5 separate regions of the Homo sapiens genome follow, and regions 1, 2, 4 and 5 are each linked to region 3. Evidence: fine-mapped expression QTL. A gene starts in region 3. Each other region holds a variant in brackets. All regions are shown on one strand. Distances are between the middles of the regions.

Region 1 (6,019 bases), 71 kb before region 3:
CCCGTGGCCTGCCTCGCCTCACCTCCTCGTGCTGCACCGGCTCCGAGGAGCGGGTGATGGACGACACCAGCGGCTCCTCGGCTGGCTCATCCAGCTCATTGTCAGTGTAGGCGCCTCCTTCACCGTCCGTGTCTTCAAAGTCACTGATGAGGCGGCTGTCGCAACTCAGATAGTCCGCGCCCATGGCGGTTAAGTAGGACATGCGGTCTTCGGGGTCATCATCCATCCCTTCCATCTAGAGGAATTTGTGTTGGACGGTCAGTGGGGTCTGATGTGGCTCCTGGGAGTGGGGACTCAAGAAAATTCCCAAGGACACAGCCAAGCGACTGAAACCTTGATGTGCTCGCCAGGGAAGGCATCTTTTATTTTTCTCCCTGAGATCACTTGGCTTTGGTACAATGTTGATATTATGGTCGTTTTTGTGCAGGAACTCAAATTAGGGGCCCTGCAGCCTATCTGTGCTACCATCCATCCTCCATACCGCGGCTAAGCCACACTTTCTCAGTCTGTCTTGCTTTTCTTCTGAATCCAGCTCCTCTGCAGCCTGTTCTCCTGGTACCACTCTCCTAGTAATATCAACACATTGCACGCTGCCTTGTGCTACACTCACATCCATGCCTCTACAAGATTCTCAGACCCTCAAAGGCAGAAGCTATGTCCTGTTCAACCTGTCCTCCCCAGGGAAGCTTGCATCCCCCTTCCAAACTGGAAGCACTCCATAGATGCCAGATACTTTGACTACACATCTAGTTCTCAAAGAGCAAAACTTAGTCAATTCTGCAACAAAATAGTCACTGTCAAGTCTCACAAAACTACCTCAGTTCAGCTGGTGAACAGGATACTAACACCAAAAGCTTCTAAAATAAAAGCGGCCACAGGTAATAGAATCTCCCTCTCTCCTCCCTGCAGCACAGCTGTGTGTGAGCTATCTCCCCGAGGGAGAAGCGATCCAATTCTAGAGGCCTAGACAAATTCCCTAACGTTCTCATATCACCCATTCAAACTCCCAGAACGATGGCACATTCTCAACCAACCTTATTTTCTAAGTAATTCTAACTCCATTAGCTTTTCTTTTTATTAATGTTTAGCCGTATTCTCCAAGTTGCTCAACCTCACCTCTCATCTGCACTCTAAGTTTCCCACGTCCTTAGTAAGCTGTGGAGCTCAGCATGAGATCTTGTAAGCTCTGATTAGTGTACTTGGAATATAACACTAGTTACTACATTAAAAGTGAAAGGGAAGTGAATGTAGGGCTGCACATGTCACATTCTGCTCTTCTTTTAAAAGTCCCTTCATTTTTATTACTTGGTCAGAGAATTTACGAAATTTCAAACTTGATTAGCACACATGTGAGCATCACTTCAAATGGGCATGGCTTGACTACATTCACTGCCCTCTTGAGAAAAGTTTCAGAACAGGGACTCTCACCTCATAGCAGCATATCTATGCCACATACCTTTCCTTCAGAGACCCAAACCGCTTCTCCTTGCTGATGCTGAATAGTGTCCTTTAAGCTGCCAAACCAGCTATCATTGGCTGAATTTAGGTTGATTGTAGCTATAGAAATATAAACAAAAAGGTCTGCATTAATTTCCAGAGGCATGTTTATTAAGGATGCTATTTGACATAATTTACACTCATTTCTGTGATATTTAAGACTATGGCAGACGCAAGAAGATGTTTGCACATCTTTGAATATTAAAACCCTTTTAATGAATGCAATTAAAACTACTAATCATGTAGCTGTTTGAGTTCACATTATAGGTGGATGTGATAAAGCTAAAAATAGATTTTTAGAATGTTTATTTTCAGAAAGGCTAACTTTTAAAAATGTTTTTAAGAACATGTGTTTTCGGCCAGGTGTGGTGGCTCATGCCTGTAATCTCAGCACTCTGGGAGGCTGAGGTGTATACACTAATTAGTATACACTAATATACTGTATTGGCTACCTCCAATAAAATACTAAAAGTAACACTTAAACATAAAGTTGTCCCTTGGTATCTGTAGAGGATTGGTTCCGGGACACCCCCCACTTGGATACCAAAATCCACAGATGCCGAGTATCTGATACAAAATGACACAGTATTTGCATATGACTTATGTACATCCTCTTATATACTTTAAATCATCTCTGGATTACTTATAATTCCTAATACAATGTAAATGCTACGCAAATCGTTGTTATACTATATTGTTTAGGGAATAATGACAAGAAAAAAACCCTGCACGTTTAGATGTAACCATCCATTTTACCCCTCAAATATTTCCTATACACGGCTAGTTGAATTCATGAATGTGGAAACCACAGACATGGAGAGCTGACTGTATATCACTTTGATAGACTTACACATTTTAGAATATACATATAGATTAAACAAACCCAACCAGTGTGTATTCAAAGAATATACATTTTCTACTCAGAACAAAGTATATCTTACATAATAGCACTTACTATGCATCAACCAGTTACTTTCCAAGTACCTTACCTGGATTAGCTCATTTCACGACTACACAAACTTTGCAAGGTAGGTGTTGCTATGATGCCCATCTTATAGATGAGAAACCAAGGTAAAGTAGTGAAATTAACTAGCCCAAGGCCACACACCAAGCAAGTGTGAAGCTTGGATGCAAGCTCAGAAAACTGCTTTCAGAGCCTATGGTCTCAGCCACCACACTACATGGCCCATCTAAAAACAGAAATTTAGAGCACAGATATAAAATACCAACAAAGTACAACATATGTCATTTCTTCAGCAATATGTATTATGGACCTAATGGAGATAAATTAGACAAGCAAGTTAGTCCAAAATAACAAATTGTACCCCTAAAATTATCAGACTGCAGGTAAATTAGGATTTCTTTTAAACTACATTGCCATGGCCTCTTATTGTACTATCACTTCTAAAGCCAAAAAGAACCATTAAGCAAATTTTGTAAGCAATGATGCTTCAGGTTTTCCTCCAAGTAACATAGCTTTCTTCTGTTTAAGAAGTTCTAACAGTGACCTTAGAAAATCCTGAATGAGCTTACAATTTCCTTGGTTATTAATTATTTACAGCACTGAAATAAACTGATCCATTAGACAACCCGAAGAAAATTAACTTTGATTCCACGGACTTCT[C/G]TATTCCTATTATGGTACTCTGCAAAGATTACTGTGCTCATCTCATAGCTAAAATATGATACTTAAAAATAGAAGTGAGATTTTGTACCCCAGAGACAAAATGAGTGATTTACACTAAATATATACAAAATGTTAAGCAGTCTTTTAAAGCTTTATGTTGCAGCTGTCTGAGATAAGTATGGTCTGCATTCATCATAAAGAAAACCTAAAGTTAAAACGGCATTTTGTGAGATGCAGGAAATATGTTCTTGCCCCTTGATAAAATAAAGAAAATCACAAAAGCTCTTACTGAATTCACATTAACAGTCAAGTTTATGAATAAAAATTGAGAGCTTCACAGTAGCTAACTTCCTAAGCTGCATATAAAAGTAACATCCAACTCATGCACTTGACCTCTTTTTAACAGGCAGGTGCACAGACATGAAGCTGCCTTCCCTTGACTCTGCTGAATTAAGTACCTTTAGCTTATTATTGGATTCTCTCATTCCGCTTCTCAGATTCTTTGCCTTAGAGCAATAGTAGTTAATTATCTGTTGCTCCTAACCTCTGGGTTATGCCTATATCCCCTTGGATAGACTTACTCTATCTTTTGAGCTCAAGAAAGTGAAATACTGAAAGGATGCTGACTCAGCCACTGCCTTAGTTGGGAATACTGAGGTTCTGAGGGCACGTGTGCCCAGCCCTGACATGTATGGTCAGTGCTACCTCCCCCTCCCCAGCCAAGGAGGTTTGGAAGCACCAAGAGCGACAGCAAAAGGTAACATCTAAGACTAGAGGGTTTAGGGAAAGGGAGAAATGGGGAATGACTGCTAATGGGTATGGGGTATCTTTTGGGGATGATAAAAATGTTCTAAGATTGATTGGTTGTGATGACAGCTGTACAACTCTGAATATACTAAAGCCCACTGAATTGCATACTTTTTTTTTTTTTTTTTTTTTTTCCTGAGACAGGGTCTCATTGTCGCCCAGGCTGGAGTGCTGTAGTGCAATCTCGGCTCACTGCAACCTCCAGCTCCCGGGCTTAAGTGATCCTCCCACCTCAGCCTCCCAAGTAGCTGGGACTACCGGCACCCACCACCACACCCAGCTAATTTTTTTATTTTTAATAGAGACAGGGTTTCATCATGTTGCCCAGGCTGGTCTCAAACTCCTGAGCTCAAGTGACCTGCCCACCTTGGCCTCCCAATGTGCTGGGATTTACAGGCGTGAGCCACCATGCCCAGCTGAACTATATACTTTCAATGGGTGGATTATATGGTATCTAAGTCAAAACTCAATAAAGCTTTTCACGTGGCTCGGTTAACAGTGGCACGCTAGACCCCCTCTAAATGGGCATGCAACAGCAAAGGTATCCAGCTAGGGGGCCCAGCATCTTCCTTCTCTTTTCTGTGGTCAACTAGCTAGTCTATATAATCCTTTGAGAAATCAGGAATTAAAATTCTATAATTAGCATAAAAGGGTAGCCCCACTTGGGTCTCTAAATCCATAAGTCAACTTAAATGATCTTCGAACCATGCACTGAGTACTTTGAAGATTCCAAGAAAACATGTAATTCAAAGTTTGTTTTTTAAAAATAAAAATTTGTGATATGCAAATGTATTTTATAGAAAATTTTTAAAAATTGGTAGTAGGGGAGGCAAACCTAACACTTAAACTTATTATGACAAGTCAACTTGCCTTTGGGCAAATCTCAGAATAAAGCTTCTCTTGTTTAACTGAGAAGTACTGTAAGACTTGTAAGGAGAACTATTTTCATATTGTCATAATTAAATACTCGTGAGGAAGAGGAGCTTTCTTATTACTTTGCAAAAAGGAAAACAAAAGGATATTGAGCCTAAAGAGACTAATGCAACATAAAGCTTGACTTCAAATTACTGTGTTCATCAAAGCACTCTATTATTCTCAACTACTAACTCACAAAAATGCCATACACTTAAAATCATTTTAAAAGCCTACAAAATAGGCCAGGCACGGTGGCTCATGCCTGTAATCCCAGCATTTTAGGAGGCCAACACGGGCAGATTGCTTGAGCCCAGGGGTTTGAGACCAGCTTGGGCAACATGGGTAAACCCTGTTGCCAGAAAAAATACAAAAATTACCCAGGCATGGTGGTGTGTGCCTGTAGTCCCAGCTACTGGGGAGGCTGAGGAGGGAAGGTGCCTTGAGCCCAGGAAGCAGAGGTTGCAGTGAACCGAGATCGTGCCACTGCACTCTAGCTTGGGCGACAGAGGGAGACTATGTCTCAAAAACAAACAAAAACTATAAAATACTAATTCTGCCTGAAGATTCTACTGCTCAAATGTAAAGACTAGTGTTTCTGGACATGGCACACAGCCTCAAGTCAAAACCTGGTCAAGCTAAGAGGGACGAGGGTGAGATGGGGAATAAAAGCAATTATTAGTGCAGTCATCCACACAGCTGTAGGGAGTCAAACTTTGAAGTCTGGAAGAGTACTGTAAAAGACCACTTGCTAGAAAATTGGAGCTTGCTGGTCAAAGTTGCTGCACACCCTGCACCATCTATCCTGAAGACTGTACAATTCTACATAAGAGATTGGCAATTTCTGGTGAGATAAGATCACTTCAATGTTTTAGATGAAACTCAATGCTTACAGTGTGTGCTTCCATTCCAATCTCTGACTTGAGTTATTCTAAAACTTTCAACTTCCTGATGAGTTTAGGCAAGAAATGGCTTGGTGTGCCAGGGGCAGTTCTAATGTAAGTTACAAACATTTATGCCTTGCCCATGTGCTAGTCCTGATGCTGGCCTCAGGCACACAACGCTGGGAAATGTTCAGGCTCTGCCTTCAAGGATCTTGAAATCCATCTATGGAGCTAACAGAGGTGTTGCTAACCCCTTCTACACACATGGACCCCTCTAGATTCTTACTCACACTCA
Region 2 (6,129 bases), 41 kb before region 3:
AAACGAATGAAGCACATCCTCCATGGGGGTGCCATTGACCATGACCACTCTGTCATTTTCTCTGTAAACAAGAAATAAAAATGGGTCATGAAAAACTCCCATCTATTCATTGTAAATTATTTATTTAGGAACAAATAGAAGCAGCAAATAGACCTGAAAGGCTTTCTAAAGGGCTCAGTGTCTAGTGGCGCCCAAGGCCCAGTCAACTTGGCCTGAGATCTTCCAAAGAAAGGAACTGGGGGCCATACAGCTCAATTCTGAGTGTCTAAATGGAAATCATCTGGGAAGAGAGAGGCCTGATCTCCCCAAACCACAGCATCACACCAGGAGGTACTTGATGACGGTGAGGTCTGGACACAAAAGGAATTTCTCTATCAGTCCCCTATTGCCTGAGGTGCACGGTGGGCTTCAGAAAAGTCTAAAAACACTCCTTCCAAGTAGGTGTATATCCATTTGTGCTTTTGTGCAGGAAAAGGGCTTGCCTTGGATTCTTAAGAAATTTTGAGATCACAGAATCCTATTGTTCCAGTTCATCCCAAATATTACTTTAAAATTTTGCATTTCTCCATATGAAAGACTACTAACTTTGATAAAACTATAGAGACTTTCTTAACTATAATTTTATTTTTTAAGAGGCATGGTTTCCCTCTCTCACCCAGGAAGGACTGCAGTAGTGTGACTGATGATAGCTCACCGCAACCTCAACTTCCCGAGCTCAAAGGATTCTCTCACCTTAGCCTCCCAAGTAGCTGGGACCCGAGTAGGTACATGCCATCCCAACAGGGTCTCACTAGGTTGCCCAGGCTGATCTTGAACACCTGGCCTCAAGCGTTCCTGCCACCTCAGCCTCCCAAAGTGCAGGATTATAGGCGTGAGCCACTGTGCTTAGTTCACAGAGGCTTTAAACACCAACAAAACCTAAACTTTTGAGCTATTTATCCAATGCAGCCATACAGTTAACTTTAGACTTCGTCCTGAGAAGTTATCCTGTGGGAATCAGGCATGTATCATGTAAAATGGTGTTACCAGCTGGGTATGGTGGCTCATGCCTGTAATCCCAGCACTTTGGGAGGCCGAGGTGGGCAGATCACTTCAGGTCAGGAGTTTGACACCAGCCTAGCCAACATGGCGAAAACCCGTCTCTACTAAAAATACAAAAATTAGCTGGGAGTGGTGGCAGGCACCTGTAATCCCAGCTACTCAGGTGGCTGAGGCAGAAGAGAATTGCTTGAACTCGGAAGGTGATGGTTGCAGTGAGCTGAGATCGCACCACTGCAATCCAGACTGGGTGACAGAGCAAGACTCTGTCTGAAAAAAAAAAAAAAAAAGAAAAGAAAAAATTTATTAAAAATTAAAATAAAATGGTGTTACTTCTTCAGGTCAGAAAGCTGGCAGTTGGAAAACTTGTGGTTTTCCTATAGTAAATTGTCCCAACTTCCACATCACTCTTACAAATAAGATAATCAATAAACCAAAGTCTCCTCATTAAATTCTTAAAGAATATAAATTAAAACAAACATAAACAGTGTTGGTTAAGCATCGGGGTTGAGAAGCATGCCAATTTAAAACTCCATGTTCAGAAATGATTCCTAAACCTAGGAGGGATGTTTGGAACTATCTTCTTACGGAAACAACTGCCCTCCTCGCTCCAAAGCTGGGGTGTTCCCAAGGTTTGGGCATTATTCAAACATGGTGTGTTATGGCTTCCATTCCAGCTTGAAGACTTTTCAAATATTATATAAAAGTTTGTTATTTTTTTCTTTTTTTTAAATAAAGTGGACACCAACCAAAATACCCCGTCTAGGGCCAACCAGTAGGGCTGGTAGGGGCTGCGGAGCGAGGGAGGACACTCACTGGAGCAGCCCATCAGCAGGCCCACCCGGGAGCACATCAGAAATGACAATTGACGTTTCTCCATTTTCAAAGTGGGGGTTGTCTCTGCCTCCGGACACTGCAATTCCAAATCCTCTTTTGGAATCCTGTACATCAGAGAGGAGAAATATTAAAAATCCTTCAATAAGTGGCTTTCAGGATTTATTACAAGCACTCAATAAAATAAAGGTCAAATCAATAACCAGAGACTGTTCAGGAACAGATGGGCTTACAGAAACAAATGAGAAACAAAACAAAGCATAGTCATTGTCAGCTGACAGGTTTATAAAGGGAAATTCCTTATCTGAAAGAAACAGCCTGTAGAGGCTGGAAAAGATTGATAGTGCAGACTGGAGTTATCACTAGAAGCTGGCCGGGATAGGAAACAATGTCTTCAGTCCAAATAGGGACGTACTGTTTGAAGCACCAGTTGTACCTCTTTGCATCATGCTGGCCCGAGCTGGAACAACTTCAGTAAAAACTGAACCTGTACTAAAACTGTATTTTTTAATTTTCAGATTTCCTTATTGTATTTGTTTTTTAAGAGACAGAGTTTTGATCTGTTGCTAGGCTGGAGTGCAGCGGTGTGATCACTACTCACTACAGCCTCAAATTTCTGGGCTCAAATGAGCCTCCTGTCTCAACCTCCCAAAGCACTGGGATTACAACAGACAGCCATTGTGCCTGGCCTGTACTGTAAATATTTTTAATTCTTCTGTATATTGTGATGTTTTGACATATTAAAAAAAAAAAAACCTTCTGCCTAGGCTCATGGCTCATGTCTATAATCCCAGCACTTTGGGAGGCCAATGCAGGCAGATTGCTTGAGTCCAGCAGCTCAAGACCAGCCTGGACAACATGGCAAAACCCTGTCTTTACTAGAAATAGAAAAAAATAGCTGGTCATGGTGGTGCACATCCATAGTCCCAGATACTTGGGAGGCTGAGGTGGGAGAATCACCTGAGCCTGTGAGGTCAAGGCTTCAACAAGCCAAGGCAGCTTTTGCACTTTAAATTGGGCAAATGGAGAAGTCTCTAAAAAACAAAAAAAAAAAA[C/AC]CACAACTTTCTAGCTGGGCGGGAAAAGACTGCTCTTCCCAGTGCTAGCCAATCCTTTTTAATTTTATTTTTATTTTAGATTCAGGAGTACATGTGCAGGTTTGTTATATATGTGTATTGTCTGATGCTGAGGTTTGGGCTTCTAATGATCCTGTCACTCAAGTACCGAACACAGTACCCAAGAAGTAGTTTTTCAAACTTTGCTCCTCTCCCTCCCTCCGTACTTTTGGAATTCCCAGTGTTTACTGTTCCTGTCCTTGTGTCTGTGTGTACCCAATGTTTAGCTCCCACTTCTAAGTGAGAACATGCAGTATTTGGTTTTCTGTTTCAGCATTAATTTGCTTAGGATAATGGCCTCCAGGTACATTCGTGTTGCTGCAAAGGACATATTTCGTTCTTTCTTATGTCTGCCTAAAATTATATTTTTAAAGTATACCTTTAACTTCAAAGTAGATGTGTTGGTAGTTTCATTTCAACATACAGTGAAAAAGAAGTAAATGGATTTGTTTGTTTTTTTTTTTTTTGAGATGGAGTCTTGCTCTGTTGCCAGGCTGGAGTGCAGTGGTGCTGGCTCACTGCAACCCCTGCCTCCTAGGTTCAAGTGATTCTCCTGCCTCAGCCTCCTGAGTAGCTGGGACTACAGGCATGTGCCACCACACCCAGCTAATTTTTGTATTTTTAGTAGAGAGACAGGGAGGGTTTCACCATGTTGGCCAGGATGGTCTCGATCTCCTGACCTTGTGATCCACCTGTCTCTGCCTCCCAAAGTGTGGGGATTACAGGCGTGAGCTACTGCGCCCGGCCCGTAACTGGATTTTAAAGATAAAATTTGAACGTAAAATATGTGTTGAGATCTCATGAAAAGCAAAGCACTAAACCCTTTTCTTCATGCATGGAAGATCGGAAATAAGATTTATTACATCCATGATCAGTCTAGCAATGCACAATGGTGAGCATAGATAATACATAATCCTAATTCATTTGTGTTTTAAAAAGCTAAGTCTGGGCCAGGTGCGGTGGCTCACACCTGTAATCCCAGCACTTCGGGAGGCCAAGGCGGGTGAATTGCTTGAGTCCAGGAGTTCGAGATCAGCCTGGCCAACATGGCAAAACCCCATCTCTACTAAAAATACAAAAATTAGCCAGGTGTGGTGGCACACCCCTGTAATCCCAGCTACTTAGGAGGCTGGAGCAGGAAAATCACTTGAACCTAGGAGGTGAAGGTTGCAGTGAGCTGAGATCATGCAATTACACTCCAGCCTGGGCAACTGAATGAGACTCCATTTCAAAAATATATATATGTATCTAAGCCCAGTTTCATCCAGATAATATGAGTATATTTGACTGTATATTCTTAAATCTGGGTTCGATTATATAAAAATTTACTCCGAGACTAAAAGAAAATCTTCCTTTCCAAGGAAAGTTTCCCACGTGAGGCCCACTATGCTGACTGATTATACACAATTACAAACTCAAAACAGGTTGGGGGTGTTGTCTATTAATCACATGGCTTTGAATTTGGCAGCACCACCAGCCGGCACCTGGTTTTAGACAGAGGCAGCTCCATCCTCTATGCCAAGCCTAAAAAAATCTCTGACCTCTGCCAATTTTGGGTCCACAACTCAAGGAATGCATGAAATGCTCAGGGAAAGGGCAGAGGAGAGTCAGAAAGACGAGGAAAGTTGAAAAATAAGACCTAAGCAGACAAAACCCCTCAAATGAGGAAATTGTGATTACTGATCTGGAAGTCTGGGTACCTGGGCACTGGCCCAGAGACATTTTTTTCTACCTGGATTAATTCAACAAACATTAAATTCGGGAATGTCTTTAATTTTCATAGAAGACAAAGCTTGAAGCTCACAGTTCTGAGGGTCAAAGGAAAACTCTTCCTATGAGGAACTTATGGTCCCTCTAGGAGATGTCAGACCTTGGAGGAATTCAGAGCCAGAAGAAGAAACCCTGCAGAAAAACCAGGAAAATCACAGTGATGATGACCGGAAGGCAGCTTGACGGAATAAAAATGCGGAACCGTCTGGGCACGGTGGCTCACGCCTGCAACCCAGCACTTTGCGGGCCAAGGTGGGTGGATCACCTGAGGTCAGGAGTTCGAGACCAGCCTGACCAACATGGAGAAACCCCGTCTCTATTAAAAATACAAAATTAGCCGGGCGTGGTGATAGGCGCCTGTAATCCCAGCTACTTGGGAGGCTGAGGCAGGAAAATTGCTTGAACCCGGGAGGCGGAGGTTGCGCTGAGCCGAAATTGCACCACCGTACTCCAGCCTGGGCGACAAGAGTGCAATTCCGTCTCAAAAAAAAAAAAAAAAAAAAAAAAATGCAGAACCACGAGTGCAGTTCTCCAGCTCAGCCTCACACAAATGACTTACAGTCTCTTGGATGCTACACTTTTTAAGAGTTATAAGGTATGTATAATATGTCATAATTAAAATTACAGAAGTTGTAAAAAGCTCCCTCCACATCCTTAAACAGTACAGGTCATTTTCATTCTTCCCTTTCTTTTCTCTCTTTCATAACCTGTTCTAGCTGGAGATAAGAGTATACACTAAATAACCTCTAAAATGTTCCATACTAAACAGTCCTTAATCAAAAAATACAATAGCATGCAAATCTTTGTTAACATAGCAATTATTGCCAGTTAGTATCTATAATACATTATGTACCTCAAGGGAAAAAAAAAGCCAAAACTGTGTGTAGGTGAAAATAAATAAGATCCATGATCCGTAAAATCAAGAACATGACTGTAGAATATATGAAATGTGCAGAACTCACCTTTTGTAGGGTCACAGTGTACTGTTCCCATATCAGCTCTTCCATGCCTGGGGCCTGTTTTAAAAGAACAAAACCAATCTGATGAAAACCACAACCTTTTCAATGCTAGAAATAAAATTATCATTCAAAATGCCTCGACATAAAGTCCAGCTCACACTTTCTATACCAAAAAAGAGTTAATATCTGTTCATTATGCTACCTATTTTCAAACACACTCTCCTTCAATGAAATGAAACTAGAAACAATACTTGAAAGGTAAGTGAAATACATAGTGAGAGACAGACCCTAAAAAGAATGGAATGTTAAGTGCTGAGTCCTTTTATTATCACTATTCCAAAACATTATCATCATAAAACCCCTTTAAAAATATCTAGTTTCAAATAGATTCTTTTTTTAAAATCATTCTCCCCCTC
Region 3 (6,129 bases):
GGGGCAATCTCACCCTCAGACACTACCATATACCAAATCACCTTCTCTGGAAAATCAAGGCTGGTTGGTCCAACAACTGTTGGGCCCCTGATTACTGCTTAGAGTCAAATCAATGAGGCATGTTATTGGGAATCAGCTCTCAACCTAGATAAATTCATCTGTAGCCACAACTGCTTAATGGGATTCGTTCTAGAGATGAGGCAAGGAATTCCCTGGTGGCTCATATTGTTGGTAGAATATGTTGAAAGTTTCAGCAGTGATTGCGAACCCTTCTACCGCTTCACCCCGCCCCCACCACACCCAAACTTCATGCCTCTCCCCAACCAAGTCTGCATGACTTTTTAAATTACTATTTATATTACTACACATATTATTGTACACAGGACTAAAGTGGCCCCGCCTAGTTTCAATAACTTGTGTCTCGTAAAAAGATAACCTTCTTAAGGAGAGAAAACCTTGCTAAACTCAAAATCTCCCTTGCCTTCAGCAGTATGCAGAAAGTTCTCACACTTGTCCTGAAGAGAAATGGTTGGCTGTGAACTTTTGTCAGTGTACAAAGAACTAGATCAAAAGTTAAATGTAGGCAGAAGTCATTGCAAATGCAATTCCCCCGGGGGTGATGTAAAAATTCATTGGTCTTAAGCCTATGAATGCCTCAAAAATAGTTATGGGGTGGGATGTTTACTGGGAAACTGGTTCGCTTCTTTTGTAGGGAAAGTCAAGTCATTTAATACATGAGGGATTTCTGACTTCCCCCCACCCAAAGCTTCGTTATGGCCTTCAAGGCCTTTTAACAGAGTGTGAACAACAACTCTTTCAGTTTTTTCCTGGACACCTACCTGGCACCTCCTACTTGTATCTTTAGATCTCACCTCCCTTATCAACCCAGGACCCAACACTTAAGAGTTTTCAGCACCCGTTTTGTTCCTATTACTAGCTACCACCATTTACGTAGCATCCACCACATGCCTTGTACTCTCTGTCATTTCATTCAGACCTCACTCAGCCCGGTGAGGTGGGCGCATTACTGGCCCCATTTTCTATAGTGGCTTGCTCGGGTGAGGTAACTGTTCAAATGCCCTTTATTCCCAGCAAGAATCCCCTGAAGGGAATGCATATAGGACCAATCCCACTCTTTGCTAAATTTCTGTATTGCAGAGTGTGCATCGGCATCATACATTCCCTCCCTCAGTCTCAGGAATCCCGACACAGATTGCAGAGTAAAGTCTAACAGTTTCAGGTCCACTAGACCCCTAAATGCAGAAATTGAATCTTGTTCATCTTTGTATCCCCCACAGTGACTGGCAGGAGTAGGGGCTCATTCAGTATTATAATATCTGGATGGTACTGAAAAAGTTACAGCAGCATTTCAGAGGGGAAAGTTCCCCTTCATCAATCTGCATAAGTAGCTCTGAAAAGAAATAAAGTGGCCCCACTGCAGAAGTAGTTCTGAAAAAAACACAAGAAACACCTCAAAAGCCACCGGTGCTTTAGTAAAGCACCTCCGCTTCTGCCATCTCCCCACAATGAGGAAGCTCCAGTACCCTGTCCACATTTCTAAATGGCACTCATCGGATTCTTAATGAGTTGCAGGCTTTCCCAACGGGACTGTGTGACAGAGCCACGCTCTTGCTCATCTGCGTAATCCCCACACTGAAGTGGAGTTGTTCATGAAAACTTACTAAATAATCAAATTTCATCCTCTCAAGCAGGATATGCAGTGGTACTTTGCTACAAATACATTTACCACTACGAATTTCTCACTTCAAGCGATCTCCTGCCCAGGTGTGTGCTCTCAGAAAATTACATCTCTTTCTGAATTACGCTGGCAAAGGTGGACCTGTTTTCCCAAAAGGACCGTCAGCACACCCAGCACAGACCACCTGGGGAGCTGAAGAAAACGACCTCCCTCCCTCCTCCCCGCTGGGATTCCCCGGGCTGAGAGCGTGAGTGAGAAGCGCAAGGCAGTTTCTATCATGGGATGACTCTCCGCTGGGAACTTCAGGGAAACCACAACCATCATTACTCAGGCCAGACAGCTGCCAGAAAAGCAGCCTAGCCTAAGAACTGAAGCTGAAATAGAGGTGGGAGGCTGTATTCCATTACTAAGCGCGGGAGCACTCACTCCCAAGTTTGTCCACATTTCAAGAATGTTAAAACCCTGTGGTAGAAATCCCTGATTATTTATAACTTAAACTACCGTGTAAAAGCAGAAACTTGACAAATGAAGACATAAAAAGAACTGGTGACAGGTAGGCTAGTACTAGAATACAAAGCATTCATCACACTCCTCTTTTGTGGGTCCTTCCAAACCTCCATCCCCATTCCCTACTGGAAAAAAAAAAAAAAAAAAACAACTTTTACTTCTATTACAGACGCAGCTGATTGAAAGGGAAAAGGGATTCTGCTCTGTGATGAGTTTTCAGTTTCTCTCACGTACACAAGCCTGTAACTTTGCATCAATACCGAGTGTGGTTTGAAATAGAGAAGGAAAACACAAAGACATGCAAGCGACACAACAGACACGAGATGCCTCCAAGCCAGCAGAAATCCAGGACACCGGGTTCAAGACAGTGTCCCCTACTCGCGCCTTAATCTCCAGCCCAAGTGACTTCAGAGTAAAGGTTCCAGGAGCCCCGGAGGCCACGAGTCATCAGCCCGGACGGTGAAACCTACCCCTCCCCTGCGTCCCACGTCCGGATGGGAGAATCCCAGCTTCCTACGGCGCATCGGGGAACAACTTCAGAGCAGCACGCGAGCAGAGCCCCCAGCGCTCCCACGCTCACGCTCACGACCCTCCTCCCAACCGCGCGGCACAAGGAGGCACTTACGCGGAGCCAACCTGACAGCTCCCGCCGGGGTGGAAACCCGCGGTCTCCTCGCACCGGCATTTCGGACACAGGTCCCGCGTAGGCGCGCAGCTCCGGACCCCGCTTCTGCTTCTGCTCCTGCTCCTACTCCTCCTGGGCACCACCGGACAGTGCTCTGACCCGCAGCCCAACCGCCGGGGTGCCGACCCGCGGGGACCCACCCCTTTGTCCCTCCTCCCGCGGCGGCGGCGGCGTCAGCCCGCCCCCGACCCGAGCGTGGCGCCTCCGCGCTGGCCGCCCGGCCCGGGAAACTGTCAAATTGGCCGCTACCACCCACGCGCCTGCCGGGGAAGGGCTCGCCGGCGCCGCGCCTTCGAGGCTCCTGCGGCGAACCGCGTCACGCGCGACTCCTGGCCGGGGGCGGGAGGCGGCGGCGGCGGCAGGAGAAGCCCAAGGCCCGAGCGGCCCGCAGCCCCCACGCCTGCACCCCTCCACCCCCGCCAGCCCGATGGTTCGCTCCGCGGCGTGCACTGGAGCAAGCAGGTCCCGCTCCGAGCGCGCGCGCTCTGGGAAGTGCTGCAAGTTTGGAGACCTGGAGTGAGCTCCGGGCGCTGCTGGCCCGACTGTCCGCGGTGTTTCCCCGGTGAGGTCGCGGGGGCATCCTGTAGGAAGACTTTTTGGCGAGGTTCGCAGGGCCTCACACAGGCAGCTTCAGTTCTCCTACGAAGAGTCGAACTGGGAAAACCTCAAAGTTTTAGGTCCTGTCTAGAGGCCTGCCCGGCTAACCAACACATACACGGCCTTGTACCCCACATTTCTCAGCCCAACAACTGCCTACCCGAATTCCGAGGGTTATAAGATGTTCGTATTAAATATTAAAACAGGACTTTTCAGGACAATATATTCCAGGTTATCTCTTTGGCACATTTCCAACAACTCCAATAAAGAGATTGAAACTCCTCTCCCATCATCAGCTTATAAAAGGTTGCCAGTAGGTCACAAGTGCTTATCTGACAGGATTCATCTAATGCAATTCAGTGTGCTTATTCCTTTCGAAGTCCTCCATGTGCAAAGAATTGTGCAGTGACGTTAAGTGTCTTTATTTTAAGAGCATATAAATTAATTTGGAGAATCCAAACAGGTACCGATTAAAAATATAACCTTGGGTTTGAAATCTTAAAAAACCATCTTGTAAGAGAATAGTTTTGCCTGCCCTGCTCTTCCCTTAATTGGAAAGCAAAACTCGTCCTAGGCTCACAAGTAGAAGGTAAAAGGTGTGGTCTGTCCCAGAGGAGATGCAGATGCTGGGCTCTCTCCCTGAAAAGTTGCTTCACTTCCTGCCTGATCAAAACAAGTCTAGAAGTTTCGTGGAAAAACAAGTCCAGTAGATGCCTCTCCAGAAGTGTTATGCTTCTGGACTCCTTTGGAGTAACTAAGTCCACGCCTCTGGATAAAAAGCACTGTGAGTAACGTTTCCCACTTTGCCTCGAGTCTCCGGACTTAGACATTTTGGTTGTATTCCTGATGTAAGGCATTGCTCTCCTGATCTAAGCACCTATTTATAAAATGTTTCCCAAATCTGGCCAGGCACGGTGGCTCATGCCTGTAATCCCAGCACTTTGGGAAGGCAAGGCAGGAGAATCACTTGAGCCCACGAGTTTGAGACCAGTCTGGGCAACATAGTGAGACCCCATCTCTATTTTTTAAAAATTGTTTTAATCAAAAAAAAGGAAAAAAAAATAAAATATTTCCCAAATTAGGTGGTGCTGACTAATAAAAATGATAGCACTTGAAAGGTGGCCACACCTTAATGATGTGGGCTTAGAGCCACTAACATTTAAAAAATAATCCAGAATGTGGCAGTTACATCTACTGACTGATTTCCTTTTTTCTCTCTAGAGCGGCACTGTTCAATAAGATGACCACTTGCCACCAGTAAGTGTTTACATTTACATGTAAATTAACTAAAATTAGAGGAAATGACAAATTCAGTTCTTCAGTCACACTTGTCTCATTTCAAGGGCTCAGAAGCCACATGTGGCTAATAGCTACCCTATTGGACAGTGCAAATATAGAATATTTCCATCAATGCAGAAAGTTCTGTTGGACTGCACTACTCGAAATGATGAAATATTTATAGACAAACTCCATTCTTCTGGCACAACACCTGACAGATGATAAGCATTCAGTAAATGGTTGTTAGAAACACGGTTCAGTTGATATATTAGCTTTTTTGCTGGTGGCAGTGTAAATCAATACAACTCTTTGGAGAAACAATTTATTAGTCATCTTCTTCACGTGTGGGTTTGCACATTTTGACCCCACTCCTAGAATGTGTTTATCCAAAGAACTTCTACTCCGCAGGGCGCGGTGGCTCATGCCTGTAATCCCAGCACTTTGGGAGGTCGAGGCGGACAGATCGCGAGGTCAAGAAATCAAGACCATCCTGGCCAACATGGTGAGACCCCGTCTCTACTAAAAATAACAAAAATTAGCTGGGCGTGGTGGCGCACGCCTGTAGTCCCAGCTGTTCAGGAGGCTGAGGCAGGAGAATCGCTTGAACCCAAGAGGCGGAGGTTACAGTGAGACGAGATTGCACCACTGCACTCCAGCCTGGTGACAGAGCGAGATTCCGTCTCAAAAAAAAAAAAAAAAAAAAAAAAATTCTTCTACTCAACAGGTACTTACTGAACACCTCTGTCAACCCCTTGATAAAATACTCAGGATCCTGCCTTAGGAAACTCAGTCTATTGCAGTAGACAATCAACAAGTAATGATAAACTGTGTAAGCACTGAGATTCCTGGCAGGCTCAGAGTGGTCTAGCAGGAGAGACTTAGGGAAGGCTTTCCAGAGATGGGGTTGCTTATACATTCTAAAGGAGAGGTCGGAATGAGTTTTTAAGACACAAAGAAGGAAAAAAGCCTTCCAGGTAAGGGGAATAAATAACACAGAGAGAAGTAAGGAAGGAAGAGACAGCAGGCTTACTCTTGAGGTGCCAGAAGGTGAAGTTGCCCAGGCAAGTATAAAGATGGATTTGACAGTTGGTGGGGGACAGGGGTTGGTGGGGGAGGAGAATGTTAGTAAGAATGACAAGACCGGCCAAAAATGCATTTTTGTGGGAATGCAGGTGAGAGATGACGTGGCTATGAAGTTAGGCAGTGTTAGACAAAAGGGAGCCAGATTCTAGAGAAACTAAGGAAGTAGATCAGCAGGCTGGATGACTGCCTGACTAGATATGGGGAGACGCGAGCGGGAAGTGAGCCTACGCTGACTCTCAGGTTTCTGGCTTACTTAAAGGAGATGACGGTGGCTTTTATC
Region 4 (6,129 bases), 74 kb after region 3:
GCAGTGGTGCGATCTCAGCTCACCACAACCTCTGCCTCCCAGGTTCAAGCAATTCTCCTGCCTCAGCCTCCTGAGTTGAGATTACATGCATGAGCCACCGCACCTGGCTGTCCCAGCTTTTTTAAAAAGCATTTTAATTTAAAATGCATTAAGACTTGCAAAACTGTCCAAATCATTTGATCCTGTAATTTCACCCTATCTTAAGACAATAGTCAAGGCTGGGCGTTGGTGGCTCATGCCTGTAATTCTAGCACTTTGGGAGGCCGAGGCAGGAGGACCACCTGAGGTCAGGAGTTCGAGACCAGCCTGGCCAACATGGTGAAACCCCTTCTCTACTAAAAATACAAAAATAGCTGGGCATGGTCGTGGGCACCTGTAATTCTAGCTACTCAGGAGGCTGAGGCAGGAGAATAGCTTGAACCCGGGAGGTGGAGGTTGCAGTGAGCCGAGATTGCGCCACTGCATTGCAGCCTGAGTGACAGCACAAGACTCTATCTTTAAAAAAAAAAAAAAAGACAATAGTCCAAATGCAGAGAAAACTATATGCACAAATCTTTTCATCAACACATTATTCATAAAAGCAAAAAAATGGCAACTGAAATATCCAACAATTAGGAAAAAATGAAGTAAATTAATGCAGTCACTAAAAAATTGTATATGCGTATATATATGTTAATCAGGAAGAGCATGTAACAACATTTATTCAATCAGCAAATATTTATTGAGCCAGCTTTACTATACCATGCTAAGTAAAATGGTGAAAAAGGTGGAGAAGATTTGGTCCTCATGGAACTTGTAGATAACACTTATGATATAATATTCAGTTGAAATTACAGAATACAAAATTCACCCAGTATGATTACCACGATGCAAAAATGAAATGCACAGGCAAAGGACAGGAGCAAAATAAGCCCTAGTGCAAACTGTATTTGTATTCATTCAGGGTAGTGACAGTACTAATGACTATTCTTCCTTTTACCATTTTAGAACTTATGGTAGATGTTTTTATTAAATATTAAAGTGATATAAAATGTGTAGAGACATCAAGAAATAATACTGTTACATTAAAAAACAGAATATAAGTAGAATAGCTGCATAGTATACCTGCAACTCTCCATTCAGATGAACAGGGATTGAAATCAATCGTGCAAGTATTATGAAAAGTAGTAGCATCTGAGCTAATTTATTTTCCTTTAACAAATGCATGTTAATGTTGTTAGTTCAAGGTCTTGTAATAATGTGTAATAAATATGTGTAATAAATAAATAAACTTTTATTTATTTGTTTATATGAGACAGGGTCTCTCTCTGTCACCCAGGCTAGACTGAAGTGGTGAAATCACCGCTCACCACAGCCTCGACCTCTGGGCTCAAGCAGTTCTCTCACTTTAGTCTTCCCAGTAGCTGGGACTACAGACGTGCGCCACCACGCCCAGCGAATTTTTGTATTTTTAGTAGAGATGGGGTTTCTCCATGTTGGCCAGGCTGGTCTTGAACTCCTGACCTCAAGTGATCCACCCACCTCAGCCTCCCAAAGTGCTGGGATTGATTACAGGCTGAGACACTGCACCTGTCCCCCACATGTACTTTTTTTTTTTTTTTTTTTTGAGACCTAGTTTGCTCTGTCACCCAGGCTGGAGTGCAGTGGCTCACTGCACCCTCCACCTCCCAGATTCAAGCGATTCTCCTGCCTCAGCCTCCCAAGTAGCTGGGACTACAGGCGTGTGCCACTAGGCCTGGATAATTTTTTGTTTTTTTGGAGAGACGGGGTTTCACTGTGTTAGCCAGGATGGTCTCGATCTCCTGACCTCGTGATCTGCCTGTCTTGGCCTCCCAAAGTGCTGTGATTACAGGCATAAGCCACAGCCCCCAGCCTTCCTATGCGTACTTTTAAAACAAATTTAGGCCGGCCGCAGTGGTTCACGCCTGTAATCCCAGCACTTTGGGAGGCCAAGGTGGGTGGATCACAAGGTCAGGAGATCGAGACCATCCAGACTAACACGGTGAAACCCCGTCTCTACTAAAAATATAAAAAAGTAGCTGGGCGTGGTGGCGGGCGCCTGTAGTCCCAGCTACTCGGGAAGCTGAGGCAGGAGAATGTTATGAACCTGGGAGGCGGAGCTTGCAGTGAGCCGAGATCGCACCACTGCACTCCAGCCTGGGCGACAGAATGAGACTCCATCTCAAAAACAACAACAACAACAACAACAACAACAACAACAACAACAACAACAAACCTTGTCCACTTTTCAAGGCCCATGTCTAAATTCACTCAGATTATTGAAGTCTCTCCTGACCTCACTCACTAGACATGGTCCCCAATGTATCCTCTGATTCTCTCTACCATACCCATGGTTTGCTTCTTTGCTAGCCTGTTGTGTATTATGCCTATGCAGTATACCTCTGGGGCTTGTCTTCCTCTTCTTCCCCAGGAGTCGTCTTTGTTATACACACTCATACATCCCCCCATACACATACTCCAGCTCCTAAAATCCTTGTAGATAGAGCTTATATCTGGTACCCTGACACATAGTATGTGTTCAATAAAAAATATGTGTTGAATTGTCTCCTCACCAATATATGATTTCTTTTCCTTTCTTTTTTCTTTCTTTCTTTCTTTTTTTTTTTTTTTTTTTTTTTGAGACAGGGTCTCATCACTCTATCACCCAGGCTGGAGTGCAGTGGTACAATCATGGCTCACTGCAGCCTCTACCTCCTGGGCCGAGGTGATCCTCCCACCTCAGCCTCCCAGGTAGCTAGGGCTGCAGGCAAGCTGACCACTCCCAGCTAATTTTTTATATTTTTTGTAGAGACAGGGTTTCACCGTGTTGCCCAGGCTGGTCTTAAACTTCTTGGCTCAAGTGATCTGCCTGCCCTGGCCTCCCAAAGTGCTGGGATTATAGGCATGAGACACTATGCCCGGCCAAGATATAATTATTTATATTAATAATAAGTCAAAAATAAAATAATGATTTTTCTTTTTTTTTAATTTTTTTTTGACAGAGTCTCACTCTGTTGCCCAGGCTAGAGTGCAATGGTGCACTCTTAGCTCACTGCAACCTCCATCTCCCAGGTTCAGGCAATTCTCTTGCCTCAGCCTCCAGAGTAGCTGGGACTACAAGTATGCACCACCACACCCAGCTAATTTTTGTATTTTTAGTAGAGACGGGATTTTACCATGTTGGCCAGGCTGGTCTTGAACTCCTGACCTCAGATGATCTGCCCGCCTTGGCCTCCCAAGGTGTTGGGATTACAGGCGTGAGCCACTGCGCCCAGCCTAAACATTAATTTATTGACTTGATATGACTAAATGTTCCCATCAAGAATGTTCTACAGATTCCTTCACTGATACATATCCACAGTAAGGAAAAAACAAACAGCCACTTACCCAGCCATCCTATGAACCACACTGTCTGGGTTGCTTCGTTGCTCACTTGCTGATTGGAATCCCAGGAGACAGAAACAGAGGTAGTCCAGCACATGGCCTGTTTGGAGAGCATGGTCCTCACTTTTCCTCAGGGATGGAACAGCCACAGGAGCCACGTTAACCTTCCAGGAGAAGGAGTATGTCTTGAGCATGGGTTTGGCATATTAAGGAGCCATGCCTGCAAATAAATTCCATCTCGAACTGAAGAGGCACTAACCGAGGAGCTGAGTTAATTATTCTTGCCT[G/A]TGGTTCCCAAGGCTACAACCTCCTTAGGATGCTGGGTAACAAGATCCTTTTCAACTCACTTGGGAGATATTAGTTGTCTGTTGCCTGCACCTGACCCCTGGATATGATTCATAGGGTTTCTGTCTGCTGCGGAGCCGGAGAAAGCAGCCAGCAAAGATATATTAGCTCCTATGTGGTGTTTTCACGCCCCACTGATGTGCCATAAAAACTCCCAGCTAAGGACCTCCTATTACGAATGCACCCGCTGTGTGTGAAGGAGGTGACTGATGTTAAACTCACATGCCAGAGAGAACTGGCCTATGAGGAAACAGGAAGAAAGTACTCTCTCTCACACACTTTTTTTTTTTTGAGACAGAGTCTCGCTGTGTTGCCCAGCTGGAGTGCAGAGGCACGATCTCGGCTCACTGCAACCTCTACCTCCCAAGTTCAAGTGATTCTCATGCCTCAGCCTACCGAGTAGCTGGGATGACAGGTGTCTGTCACCACGCCCAGCTAATTTTTGTATTTTCAGTAGAGACGGGGTTTTGCCATGTTGGCCAGGCTGGTCTCGAACTCCCAACCTCAAGTGCACTGCCCACCTCAGCCTCCCAATGTGCTGGGATTACAGGTGTGAGTTACTGCATGCAGCCAGAAGAAAGTATTCTCCATATCACTGCATTCACCTACTGGAGACTTCTTTCCTCAGGAAGCCAAGACCCAGAAGCAAAATGACTGGAAATCAAAGATGGACATTAAGAGCACATTCATCTTCTTCATCAGCTGCTGACAACTATTACTCAGGTGTGTAACATGTAGGCAAAACGTCTCTGCTATACCGGGGGCATGTCAGCAATTCGGTCCTGCCCAGATCTGGATTCTTTTTTTTTTTTTTTTTTTTTTTTTGAGACAGAGTCTCACTCTGTTGCCCAGGCTGGAGTGCAGCAGCACGATCTCAGCTCACTGCAGTTTCCTCCTGGGTTCAAGCGATTCTCCTGCCTCAGCCTCCCCAGTAGCTGGGATTACAAGTGCCTGCCACCATGCCCGGCTAATTTCAGATCCGGATTCTTGATTTCTAGAATCGCAGCTACTCATGAGACTGGTTGATGCAATTGCTTGCTTTTAGGAATTACGGAGAGGAGGGTTACATGGGTCCACAACCCCATAATATAATCTAAAATTTCACAGTTTTGTCTCTGAAACCAAAAGTTCGATGCCCAAACTAATTCGGCAGCAAAATCTGACCTGAAGTAATGTAAGTCTATTTATGATTCTCATTTGTTTTAGTAAAAATAGTCATACATTTCACTGGGATATATTCATGTGTTTGTTTATAGGATGTGACTCCAAGTCTTTCTTGGAGGTATCATGTCATAATATACAATATATGCAACGTATTTCGGAAAAAATTCTAAATTCCATAACACATAGCCCAAGAGTTTCAGATAAAGAGCTGTGGAACTGTAAACTTAAACCTCAGGGAGATCAACAGTTACCAGTGAACTATCCCACATGTCAAATTGCAGTTGTAGCACCTTAGAGTCTCTGCATTTCCTGCGCAAACATACATGACAATATATCTAATCCTAGTCCTGATTGGATACTGTATCAGCCTTGTAGAAAATTTTGCAAAATCATTATATACACTTCAACATTCTAACACTGTGAATTTGCACTCAACTGTGTTTACAGTGGCTGCCCTTCCTTAACAGGCCAAAAAACTCCATTTCCTCTTACTGCTTTTCATATCAATAAAAAAACAAGCATCCACCTAAGGCAAACATACTCAAATTTCTCTGTAAGTTTTCAGGGGAAGAAAATTAGGAGAGTCACTAAAAGGACAACAATATGGTCAATTTCTTTTGTATATCACCTAATTTCCTTTAGGTGGCTGTGGCAGGGTAGGGCTTGATTTTGTGACTCTAGTATGGTATCACCACAGCAAGTTAATCTTTCAAATATCCAGGTAAGTCAGAGATCATGATTTGGGTCTTTAACTGAACAGGAATTAGGTGCAAGATGTCGAATTCAGCCAGGCATGGTGGCTCACGCCTGTAATCCCAGCACTTTGGGAGGCTGAGGCGGGTGGATTGCCTGAGGTCAAGAGTTCGAGACCAGCCTGGCCAACATGGTGACACCCCGTCTCTACTGAAAATACAAAAAATTAGCTGGGCGTGGTGGCGGGCACCTGTAATCCCAGCTACTCGGGAGGCTGAGGCAGGAGAATCGCTTGAATCTGGGAGGCGGAGGTTGCAGTAAGCCGAGATCCTGCCATTGCACTCCAGCCTGGGTGACAGAGCAAGACTCTGTCTCAAAAAAAAAAAAAAAAAAAAAAAAAGATGTTGAATTCAGAACACCTGAAGGTTTTATGGATGGCAAAATTATTAGATTGGATGAATGGATTATGGCCTAGAGGTATTTCTGTTGACCGAATAGAGGAAATACAGGAATTTATCTTTTGCCCTCTGTACCCAATGTGCT
Region 5 (6,129 bases), 64 kb before region 3:
GAATTAATCATTTATATAGACAGTGCATATATTGTTACTAAAATATGTCATGTTCTTAGACCATTTTACTTTCATGAGTAATAGCAATGGCTCTTCATTTCATGGACTTAAAAATATATTCTATTAGGTAAATCTTTAAATATGTACAAAAGTACAGATAGCAGTTTAATGAACTCCGATGTACATATCAACCAGTTCAACAACTAACAACTACCAAGTCTTGGCCAGTCTTGTCCTGTCTATAATCCCATCTACTCCCCTCACTGCAGACTATTTAGGCAAATTCTCAACATTATATTAGGTCAACCATAAATATTTTATTTAGTATGCATTCCTCAAAGAACTTTGTTTTTAAAAAAATCACAATATTATTATCACACCTAACAAAGAGAAATAATAAATCTTTAAATCATCCAATATTCAGAGTGTCCAAGTTTCTAGATTTTTTTTTTTTTCTTTGAAGAGACAGGGTCTCACTCAGTCACCAGGCAGGAGTGCAGCAGTGCCATCACAGCTCACTGCAGCTTTGAATTCCTGGCTCAAGCGATCCTCCAACCTCAGCCATAGGCATGCACCACCATGCTAGGCCTTTTAGTAGAGACAGGATCTCACCATGTTGCTCAGGCTGGTCTCCAACCCCTGGGCTCAAGTGATCCTCCTGCCTTGGCCTCCCAAAGTGGGAGGATTACAAGTGTTATCCACCATGCTGGACAGGAATATTTTTAAATAATGAAACCAAGTTCCTTTCGCTTTGTAAGTTAATGCATGTATTGATGGTGAGTAGAGAACAATGACACAATCTCTAGAGAGACATAGGTGTTTGGCCTGGCTCAATCACTAGCCTTATAGTCTCACAGGAAAATATGAACTTCATCAAAATAGCTAATTATTACCACATCATGGATCTTTATGGTCATTTTCAAATAGACAAAATTACAAAGTTCAATATATAAATGCCATTGGCCTAATATCCCATTTTATAGGATTAACTATTTTTCAAGGAGTCATGAACACAATTTCAAATTCTCCATTCAGATTAATTAATTATTTCTTCTACTCTTCAATTCTTTATTTCTCATTTTTTAGCAAAGGGACTACATTTACATTTCACTTACCTGTAAAAAGGTGTGCACACGTTTTTTTAAGCTTGTTGGCTTGATCAAATAACTTTCGAGAACTTTTGTTGGACGTTGGATTTAACCTTTGTCTCATGGTTTTGACACCTTGTCTGGAGTCTGGGTTGAAAAAAATCACAATTGGGAACCACTGGGTGTAATTCAACAGGTCCACAGCTTTCGGAGTCACATCCAGTAGTGCATGCTTATCCTGTTTACAAAAGGGGAAAAGTTAGAGAAATGGATATATAAAGTAATATAGCATCAAATACTTTGTTTTAATAAGTAAAGGCTGTATGAGATATATCTTGTTTGTTTGTTTGTTTACTTATTTGGGATAGATTCTTGCTCTGTTGCCCAGGCTGGAGTGCAGTGGCACAAACTTGGCTCACTGCGACCTCCGCCTCCCGGGTTCAAGCAATTATCCTGTCTCAGCCTCCTGAGTAGCTGGGATTACAGGTGCCCGCCACCACCATGGCCAGCTAATTTTTGTATTTTTAGTAGAGACAGGGTTTCACCATGTTGGCCAGGCTGGTCCCAAACTCCTGACTTCAGGTGATCCGCCCGCCTCTGCCTCCCAAAGTGCTGGGATTACAGGCATGAGCCACCTATCTTGTAAATTTAAATCAAGAAGCAGAACACATTTCCTTCTACCTAATGCCCACTTCAATATTACCAATGTGTTAGAACTTCTGATAAAATGAATTAACACATTATTTGGTATAATGCTGGGAACTCTGGAAAAAAAAACAGTATGTTACTGCCAGAGAACAGTAACAGTGACTGGTTTCCACACAGTGAAATGGTTTGCATTTACATTATATATATATTTTTTTGAGATGGAGTTTCACTCTTGTCGCCCAGGCTGGAGTGCAATGGTGCAATCTCCGCTCACTGCCAACAGTGACTGGTTTCCACACAGTGAAACGGTTTGCATTTACATTATATATATATTTTTTTGAGATGGAGTTTCACTCGTCGCCCAGGCTGGAGTGCAATGGTGCAATCTCCGCTCACTGCAAACTCCGCCTCCTGAGTTCAAGCGATTCTCCTGCCTCAGCCTCCTGAGTGGCTGGGACTACAGGTACCTGCCACTGTGCCCGGCTAATTTTTTATATTTTTAGTAGAGACAGGGTTTCACCATGTTGGCCAGGCTGGTCTCGAACTCCTGACCTCAGGTGATCCACCCGCCTCAGCCTCTCAAAGTGTTGGGATTACAGGTGTAAGCCACTGTGCCCGGCCAATTTTTTATTATTAACATTTAATGATTAAAAGTACAGATACTATCCTAAAAGTGACTGCAGCAAACCATAATCTAATTCTTTCTGAAAACACGGTCTGTGGATGAATTTTCTCACCTGTTCAATAATTTGCCTCACGGTATTTAACCGGACCACTCCAGTGGATTTCTCAGATCCTGCATCTTTTGGTTCCGTTTCTGCAAAAGCAAAAACAGGAAGCTAAATAATTGTTTAGAAAACAGTGACAACCAAATACTCCCACCTAGCATCAAGCAATGATGGCACACCTGACATTAAGTGTCTCCTAACAAGATTCAGTGGGAAGGACCCACATAACCTGCTTAGTGGAAATCTAATCATGAAGAAACGGTTAGGCCAGTCCAACAGGAAGCATTCTAGGAGACAACTAGCTTGGATTCTTCAAAATATCAGTGTAACAAAGTTATTTAGAAAAAAGAGGGGACTGGAAAGACATAAAAATCACAAAAAGACATAAAAATCAAATGTCATGAATGGTCCTTGGTTGTATTCTGAATTTAAAAAAAAGCTATGAAGCACATAACTAGGACAATTAAGAAAACGTGGAAAATGGACTATATACAAAATCACACCACATCAATGTTACCTTTCTTGGCTGTGATAATGGTATTGCAGTTATGTGGGAGAAAGTCCTTGTTCTTAGGAGATTCACACAAGTATTCAGGGATAAAGTGTTATAAATGATTCTGCAGAAATTTTTCAAAGAGTATGTGTATGTGTGTGTGTATGTGTGTCTATGGTGCAGGCAGTGGGTGAGAGAAAATGCGTGACAAAATGTCAGCAACTGGTGATTCCAGGTGAAGGGTACGTGGGTGTTCATGATTCTTCCAACTCCTCTGTTAGAAATTTTTCAAAATAAAAATTTGGGGGAAAAAAAAACACTGACAGACTTACTAGCAGTTTGAAACCAGTCAGGTAACTCATTAGCCAATTTTTCCATTGCTATATCAGCTATGGGGCCGAATAAGACCACAGGTCTCTTGAAACCAGCTGAAATGACAAGAAAGGCCATTAAAGCATACACACTTGCCTAGCTGTTATGATAAGCAGTAAAAGTATTGTATGGGCTTTTGATAACATAACTAAACGAAAGAAACTGTGGTTTCTCCCCAATTCAGCTTGGCTCTGTTCTGAAGAATATGCCTTCACTATCCTCACCATTTAAAACAATTTTTTTCTTTTCATTCAACCACATGCTAACCTAGATTTTTTTTTAAGAGACAAGATCTCACTATGTTGCCCAGACTAAACTCAAACTCCTAGGCTCAAGC[C/GATCCTCCTACCTCAAGCC]TCCTGAGTAGCTGGGACTACACTGCCTAGCTCCTCACCATTTTTAAACACAAACTTTCCCATTGATAATATATGGAAACTTTTTTTATTTTTTGCAGAGATGAGGTCTTACTATATTGCCCAGGCTAGTCTTGAACTTCTGAGCTCAAGTGATCCTCCCACCTTGGCCTCCCAAAGTGCTACGATTATAGGCATAAGGTACAGTGCCCAGCCAATATACCGAAACTCTTGAACAGTGGTATTAAAACATTTTTTAAGTTGCAGAAATAAGCCTCAATTTAGGAACTGAAACAGCTTTTTATAAATCATGCTCCTTGTTAGAATTTGATTTCAACTCTATAAACTGCCTTTGGCATAACTGACATACATAAGTTAGAACTTGACCATACAGTCTGAAAATAAAGGTGAACAGGCTCAGAGCCCAGTCAGTTCATTTCCAGGCCCCATGTGACTTCCTCACCTTCTCGCAGCAAAACCCTCTCATAAGCTGGGAACTTGGTGCTGACAGACACAACAGCTGTGAGGTCTTCCCGACTTTTCCTCAGGTTCTTCTTCACCCCAGACCTCTGGCCACGCATTCTCCAGAAATCTGCCCGGTCCCCAGCGTTGTCTCTCTGGGCATTTTGAACACTGGCCATTTGTTCAGCTCTGAGAAGAAACCACGGGAAGTAAATCTCTAAAGCCAGAAAACGCAGCTAACATGCATTTCATTAATCAAATCCAGTCAATTTTACTTCTGAGCTCAGAGAAGATTCCGCTTGACAATGAAGAAGTTTCAGAGGGTGGGAAATGTGGGGACCTTCACTTCCAAATGGGAGCAGAAAAAGGCTGGGTCTCTGTGAAATCTCCCAGAAGTGGCTCAGCAATAAACATGTGAAATTTGGCCCATTCTGATATGCAGGTACACAGTACACACACCTGGAACTCCTGCTCAAATACAGGCCTCTTTTCTAGGTTCCTGCACTGTCAGCCAAACACCAAGTGTTCACTGGGGTGCATAAACCTCTCCAAGGATGGAGACTGGGCACCGGACAAGGGTACCTTGTCTCTAAGAGGTGTGCTGGTGTGCTACGGCCATTCAGTATATCTCTTGTATACGGTACAAGGCAGTGGATGCTCCTTAGGAAGTTGTTCAAACAGCCACATTCAGCAACCAACCACATGATGCTAAATTTACTCACAATAAACTGGCTGGTGGCTATTTACAGTTCAGGCCACTCTCCATAAACAAGAAATAGATGGTGACAAGTAATGAACTCATCATGTGGGGTTTCCTTTTACGGGGGAAGGGGGGCGGTCTCTAGTTTTCTGCAGGGGGAAGGATTAAAAGGGGTATGTGAGAATGCGATCTCTGTTACCTGCTCTTGTTGGGGATTAAGCCTTTCTCCAACTCGTTCCCAATCCTCACAGCCAGCCAGTTGCCCAGCTTGCCGTCATACAGTGTGTCTACCACTCGGAAGACCTCCCCTCTGGTGAAGGCCAGGCTCTGTGGAGTTTCCTTCTCACATTCAAAGTGGCTTCTTATAAAAAACGAATCCCCTCTGCCACAAGCCAGGATGTCTCTATACACTGAAAGACAAAAGCATCGTTTGTTGCATTCAGCTTAGTACAAGTTACAGTACTAGACACTCAACACAGCTTCTCCTATCTCTGATCTCCCCTTTACCTTCCTTCCATTCAGTGCACAAGTCCTATGGGAGTCACAGCTCCAACAGGAACAAGGACAAATAACCAGCTTCACGGCTTGCTGCAATGGTTAATTTTATTTCAACTTGACTGGGCCATGAAATAACCAGGTATTTGGTCAGACTTTATTCTATGCCTTTCTCTGAGGGTGTTTTTGAATGACAGTCACGTATAAATGGGTAGACTGAGCAAAGAAGATCGCCCTCCCCAATGCGAGTGGGCCTCATCCAATCAGTTGAGGGCCTGAAGAGAATGACAATCAGACCCCTTCTCAATTAAGAGGAAACTAGGCTGGGCGTGGTGGCTCATGCCTATAATCCCAGCACTTTGGGAGGCCAAGGTGGGTGGATCACAAGGTCAGGAGATCGAGACCATCCTGGCTAACACAGTGAAACCCCGTCTCTACTAAAAATACAAAAAATTAGCCGGGCGTGGTGGTGGGCGCCTGTAGTCCCAGCTACTCGGGAGGCTGAGGCAGGAGAATGGGGTGAACCTGGGAGGCAGAGCTTGCAGTGAGCCAAGATTGCTCCACTGCACTCCAGCCTCAGCGACAAAGCCAGACTCCGTCTCAAAAAAATAATAATAAATAAATAAATAAATAAATAAATAAATAAAAAATTAGGAGGAAACTACTCTTCCTGCCTGATGGCCTTCAAAAGGCGACATCAGCTCTTTTCCCTGACTTGGTACTGGAACTACACCATTGGCTCTCCTGGTTCTCAGGCCTTCAGACTGAGACTAGAACTAAATCACTGGCTCTCCTGAGTCTCTATCTTG

Which allele goes with the higher level. Positions count from the first base shown, and alleles are read on the strand shown. Sizes are in standard deviations (SD) of each study's normalised expression. Not every link is listed here.
As copies of C replace AC in region 2, the expression in monocytes of the gene that starts at base 2,987 in region 3 goes up (large effect, 1.0 SD a copy in Schmiedel 2018).

What was found. PIP is the estimated chance that this variant, and not a neighbour inherited with it, causes the effect. A credible set is the group of variants that fine-mapping cannot tell apart.
Region 1: its variant is the best candidate, but not a certain one, in a credible set for the expression of TJP2 in sigmoid colon (GTEx, PIP 0.81).
Region 2: its variant is the best candidate, but not a certain one, in a credible set for the expression of TJP2 in monocytes (Schmiedel 2018, PIP 0.84).
Region 4: its variant is the best candidate, but not a certain one, in a credible set for the expression of TJP2 in T cells (TOPMed, PIP 0.85).
Region 5: its variant is the best candidate, but not a certain one, in a credible set for the expression of TJP2 in coronary artery (GTEx, PIP 0.64).

The regions. Positions count from the first base shown.
Region 1 is chr9:69,242,228-69,248,246 of GRCh38, reverse strand. TJP2 (tight junction protein 2) reads right to left here. Exons shown (of 23, transcript NM_004817.4): 18 at 1,457-1,557; 19 at 23-235. Among named protein-coding and RNA genes, the nearest start is that of BANCR, 62 kb to the left of the region's middle. RefSeq lists enhancers at 5,466-5,966, 5,967-6,019. The variant C/G (reference allele first, on the strand shown) is at 3,122.
Region 2 is chr9:69,212,189-69,218,317 of GRCh38, reverse strand. TJP2 (tight junction protein 2) reads right to left here. Exons shown (of 23, transcript NM_004817.4): 2 at 5,717-5,770; 3 at 1,855-1,979; 4 at 1-61. Among named protein-coding and RNA genes, the nearest start is that of TJP2, 41 kb to the right of the region's middle. The variant C/AC (reference allele first, on the strand shown) is at 2,928.
Region 3 is chr9:69,171,135-69,177,263 of GRCh38, reverse strand. TJP2 (tight junction protein 2) reads right to left here and starts at 2,987. Exons shown (of 23, transcript NM_004817.4): 1 at 2,832-2,987. The coding sequence starts at 2,891. LOC124902175 (a long non-coding RNA gene) reads left to right here and starts at 5,667. Exons shown (of 2, transcript XR_007061566.1): 1 at 5,667-6,129. RefSeq lists an enhancer at 1,889-2,078 and a silencer at 2,969-3,398.
Region 4 is chr9:69,097,320-69,103,448 of GRCh38, reverse strand. No RefSeq gene overlaps it. Among named protein-coding and RNA genes, the nearest start is that of FXN, 65 kb to the right of the region's middle. The variant G/A (reference allele first, on the strand shown) is at 3,672.
Region 5 is chr9:69,235,134-69,241,262 of GRCh38, reverse strand. It overlaps TJP2 (tight junction protein 2), which reads right to left. Exons shown (of 23, transcript NM_004817.4): 13 at 5,025-5,235; 14 at 4,127-4,314; 15 at 3,290-3,385; 16 at 2,474-2,553; 17 at 1,116-1,326. Among named protein-coding and RNA genes, the nearest start is that of TJP2, 64 kb to the right of the region's middle. The variant C/GATCCTCCTACCTCAAGCC (reference allele first, on the strand shown) is at 3,667.